Regions from separate parts of the Homo sapiens genome. Here region 2 is linked to region 1. The links come from fine-mapping of genetic effects on gene expression. A gene starts in region 1. The other region holds a variant in brackets. All regions are shown on one strand. Distances are from middle to middle. Region 1 holds the start of SPX (spexin hormone). Region 2 overlaps GYS2 (glycogen synthase 2).

Region 1 (3,046 bases):
TAGCTCTGTCCCTGCCACTCTTCTTTAGCCCTATTCACTCCCTAAGTGTTGTGTTTAATCTCATCCCTTTACTGGTTGTAAAATTCTTAGAATTCTTAAAATTCTTAAAGCTAATCATTTCTGCCCCCCACCAAAAAGAAAATCTGTAGGCTGGTGACCTCTTGGCTGACCTCTATCAAGTTTTGCATTTCTAACCTTCTATTTTGTACTTGTACTTGGATATTTTTAATATACATTTTAATTTTAATATGCCTATATGGCAAGTGTTAATTTCCCTCTCATAACTTGCTTCTTAAGAAGTTTCTCTAATTTCAGTAAATTACTTCATAATTTACCCACAGTTTTATCCATAAACCTAAGAATCATCCTTGATTTATTTTTCTCACACTTTCATATCCCTTTTATATACAAGTTCTATATTTTCTACCTCCACAACATGTATTCCAAATTCATTTACAGCTCTTCTTTCCCTGTGTGTACCATCCCAGTGTAAGCCATCATCATCTATTGCTTATAATCGTATTTCCACATCAACTGGCCCATTTCTTCTTCTCCAATCTCATTTCAAAGCACCTCCCCCGTTCACCCACACAACGCTGCCTCCATTGGCCTCTTTCCTAGTCCCCAAGCAAGTCATGCTCTTTGCTGTCCACAGATTTTGCTTTTCTTTCTTCTATTGAGAATGCCTGGAATACTAATTCCTGCCCAGCTTCTCCCATTACTTCACCTTATCCTTCAAGACTACCCTCTGTTTTTAACCTTCCCTAAAGTAGCCCACCACTTATCCTATCACATCACCTTGCTTACTTTTACTTAACAATTTAAAACATTCTGTAGTTACAGTAGTCCCTGCTTATCCACGGTTTCACTTTCCATGGTTTCAGTTACCCATGGTCAACTACAGTCTGAAAATATTAAATGGGAAATTCCAGAATTAATAAGTTTAAATTGTGAGCTTTAAATCTGAGTAGGGTGTTGAAATCTCTCACTGTCCAGCTCCAGCCCACCCAAGACATGAACCATCTTTTTGTCCAGCATGTCCATATGTAAACACCACTCTCCCATTAATCAGTTAGTAACCATCTTGGTGAACAGATAAAAAAAAATAGTATAATAAGGCATATACGTATCAGTGGTTTCAGGCATCCACTGTGGGTCTTGAAACATGCTCCTCCACCCCACACACACCTACGATTAAGGGGTAACTACTGTGTCTTATTTATCTATTCATCAGTTTACTGTGTACCTTAACTAGTAGGTAACTTAGATCAAAGCAGAGACCATGTCTTTTCAGTGCATGGCTGTGTCCCTTGAAATACAAGGATTGTGTGTCTCATAGGCACTCAATAAATATTTGCTAAACAACAGAATGAATTGATAATTAAGTGAATGACTGATGTCAAATTCCATTGAGATTCCCAAACCTTTTCATACATCTTTAGCCATCAGTGATAGACTGATGGCTAGTTACCCAAGAAAAGTTTTCTGATTTATTCTTTTACTTTTGATTCTGCCTTGGACTATTGATTGTTTTCATTAATAATAATAATAACATGTTACTTTGGGCAGCTAGTAGGAAAAGCAAGGCCAATGATGCTGACACATTCTGAAGGCCTCCTGGGTGATGCAATCAGTATTTAAACAAATAATTTCTGCCCATCAATCATTCCTCTACTTCCTGCAATGAAGCTCCCTGGAGGAGTCATCAGATTCTCAATCTTGCTTGAAGACTGACAAGATGTCCCTGTGGACTCCCAAACTCTACTCCAGATGGGGAGGTGCCCTTAACACCAAGATTTTAAAAGCTCCAATTTCAGAGCAAGAGTCGAAAACTCACAGATAAAGTTATAGTTATTTCAGGGTTCTGAAAAGACGCAGAACATGAAGGTAAGTAAAGGCTTTATTAACTTGAGACTTCTTAGCTATTTTTTAAAACGTTTTATAGCATTTTACCTATTTCATGTTTAATAAGGATTTTAGAGTTTAAAGGATATTTGAACGATACGCCTTTAGAATAACAGAATCATTTGATTTTACTAAGAAAAAAATTCACGTATTTACTTATTCTTCATTTGGGTGAAGTAATACAAATAATATGTTTCTAAATACGTTTTTTCAAGTGGACTCTTTGTGAATTAACTAGAAGGTAGAAGGGAAACACCTCCAGAAAACTGAGTATTAAAACAGAATATTGCGAGAAGTAAGGGGGTTTATAATTGTCCAGGCGTCAAGGAAGGAAGCAGAAGATCCTATTGGCACAGAAATGACCCTTTCTGGTTGATCGCTTCATATAGGGACTCAGAAGTCTGGCAGCAACAACCTTGGCTCTTTTCCTGGTGTTTGTTTTCCTGGGAAACTCCAGCTGCGCTCCGCAGGTAATCAAATGCAAAATAAAAAATTTTAAAACAATGCGCACTGTGTGTCCACTCTGCTCTTTCTTTCTTCCTTCTTGTTTTATTCTCTTCTTTTTCCTTTATTTTGCTGTAATAGAGGACTGAGCTGCAATGTTTTATTAACTGCTCTTCCCTTCCCCCGGGCTATAGAGACTGTTGGAGAGAAGGAACTGGACTCCTCAAGCTATGCTCTACCTGAAAGGGGCACGTAAGTTCCAAATATTTCGCTCTTCCTACAATAATGGAAGACCCCTAGGAGTCAGGAACAGATAGATGGAGAGTTATGGAGAGAGAATAATGTCGAGTTTATTCCCTTAAATCATCGAGGCCATCAAAGAGACCGGTAGGTGAGGGAGGGGTGGGAGAGGGGAAGAGTCCCTGATTATTGGAAATCCTCCATCCTTATTAGAAATTCTCCATCCAAAACTGGAGGGTTGCTTCTCTTGGTCCAAATGGGGACTCGGGTTGCCTGGGAAATATCTCAGTAACCCGACCTCCGCTCCAAAGCGCCCTTGCGGCGTCCGGTCAGGCGCGGGGCTTTCCTCCAGAGCTCCAGGGCCCCTGGCTCAGCCCGGGGTTGCGCTGGGAGCGCTGGAAACTCGGCAGCCCCGCGCGACCCTATCCTGGAGCAACCTGCCCCCTCCCCACGCCCG
Region 2 (2,500 bases), 34 kb after region 1:
TTCTGATGCAAGCCTGACACATTTGTTTTATCTCCTTTGTAATAATTCCACTCGACTAAGAAATATTCTTTTCTCTAATGTGACTCAAATTCTATGTTTTGGAAGTATTTAGGACTTTTTTGTAGTTACTAAACTATACATAATTTTTATATTGAATATATTAATTCAAAAATAATTTTGTAAGCAAGTGGAAGGACAAGTTTCATGAGATGTTTTAAAGGAGCTCTTAAAACCACTAATGAAAAAATGTCCAAAGTAATCATTTAAGTGACTATGTAAGAATGTCTTTTCTAGCCTCAGGTCTGAAAATGTTCCAAATTAGCACATTCCAATAAATTAAAATACTGATTAGATAGAATTTAATAACTATGGGACATAGTGGGTGCTTTTTTCCTTATTACCTGAGTTGAAAAGATGGCTCTTTTCATAATTGTTAGATCATCTCGATCTAAAATATCGTTCAGGTCAGGAATTTCTCCTCTGCAGGGAAAAAATGTTAATAACAAAAATAAAAACAGCTGGCACTAATTCAGTGATTCCTAAGCATCAGATTATATATTATATATTTCATGTATTTTAATAAATAATGTTGATTATTCTATTAAGTAAATGTGTTCACATAGACTTAATATTTAAGTACATATTTAATACACATTGTCAATATATATTTTGAATTAAAATCTCATGAAGTCTCTCTCAGCTTCAGACTGACATATCAACCCTTAATGAGTTCATCATTGAATTAGAACTTGCCTGCATATAAATGTATTCTTATTTGTACAGCTATTTACAAGTTTTGTCAAATGAAGGGTAAAATACTGTTCACATGACATAACACATTTTCAAAGGTTATTAATTCCTTGATATTTGGAACAAAATTAATAAGTTATGATGTCTAAATTGTTAAATTTGAATAGTGAAACCTTAAGTGATTGAAGTAGAAAGCATTTCAAGCACCTACCTTAATAATGCATCATAGAGTTTTTTTCCAAACTTTTCCTTCACAGAATGTGCAACATCCCTGTTTGAAACAGAAAGATTTATCATTTAAACAGTATGACAATGTTTAATCTTTATTTGTCACGATAATGCTATTGTTTTGTTGACATTCTTTGAAATTACATTCTTTGAAATTACAGGTATCTTTTTTATAGTCTCTTCTATTATTTTACTACTTGCCAATTCAGCTTAAGTTGACATCTCCAGAGCTGAGGCAACAGAACACCATGGCCAGCACAAAGAGCTTAAAATTTTTTTGCTTC[A/G]TGATGATTGGAACAGGATAGAGAGCAGAGAGGGGGAGTAGATGAAGGTATAGGTGTAACAAGACGGGAATTCGTTGATCATTGTTGAATCTGAACTATGAGTATACAGGGAGTCATATTACTAAGCTTTTTACTTGACATGTTCTTAGAATTTCACAATAGAAAGTTAAAAAATGTTTGACTCATCTTTAAAGATTTCTACAGGGCCTTGTTCCTTCAATGGTAGCTCATTCCAAAATTTGTATAACACCTATAATGTTATAACCATTACGATAACCTAAAATAGTAGCACGATGAAAAGAGAGTCAAGTATTATTTGTCTGTAATAATCTTAAGGAAAAAACAAAGTTCAAGGCGATACATGAGATGTCATTCACTTAAAAGAAATCTTTTCACATTTATTGCTAGAGAACATTCACAGGTTGTGAGATTACCACAGCTGTTTTCGCACTGCTTGTCCTTTCAGGGTTTCCACGTTGAAATTATTTGTCTTGGCAGGCATAATGAAAAACACCATCACTGTGATGTCACTTTTATGCATCTGATGAGGAATTAGAAAACACAGAGTCAACTATCAAAGATTTTTAAAAAGTATGATAGATGGAACTTAAACATTGAAAAGTAGAGTTTTAAAATATCAGTAGATAAAAGGTATAGTTATTTATGTTTCACAGAGAGATTATATTCACCTTCCTGAGACTTTTTCAGAAATTTTAATTAAAATCAAAATAAATTTTAAATTTTCAGTCTGTACTTGCCAATAAACAAATTGACTTTCAATCAGTATTTGTCAGTTAACAATTTGAAAATTCAAACAAAATATTTTCGTGCCTTTGACCATCTAGAATAGATAACAATTGCTATTGATGACACTGTGCTTTTCTGTGGTTAAAAAAATAGCATGAATGAGAGCTAATATTACAAGACCAAAATTAGTTCTTTAAAATTTCAGATTGGAAGTTTAATGAAGATTTAAGCTTTGGTAAAAGCTAAAATAATATTTCAATTTTTTTGCTTATTCATGTTGATTGATGACAGATAGATTATTTTTACTTTTCCGCTAAATGTCTTGATTCTCATGATGTTGTATTTTGGTTTTTAGCCCTAAAGCAAAGAAACAAGCACATGACGAGCACTTTTGGGATAGCAGACACTGTGCTGGGTGCTTTAAATATACTACTAATAATCATGTACAATAGGCATTTCTCTCCTCATTTTATTAATGTCAAAAGAAAGGA

What was found.
Region 2: its variant is fine-mapped to the expression of SPX in lung (TOPMed, PIP 0.91).

The regions. Positions count from the first base shown.
Region 1 is chr12:21,524,592-21,527,637 of GRCh38, forward strand. SPX (spexin hormone) reads left to right here and starts at 1,705. Exons shown (of 6, transcript NM_030572.4): 1 at 1,705-1,887; 2 at 2,295-2,375; 3 at 2,544-2,601. The coding sequence starts at 1,882.
Region 2 is chr12:21,558,690-21,561,189 of GRCh38, forward strand. GYS2 (glycogen synthase 2) reads right to left here. Exons shown (of 16, transcript NM_021957.4): 8 at 1,697-1,803; 9 at 962-1,021; 10 at 402-480. Among named protein-coding and RNA genes, the nearest start is that of SPX, 34 kb to the left of the region's middle. RefSeq lists an enhancer at 1-434. The variant A/G (reference allele first, on the strand shown) is at 1,263.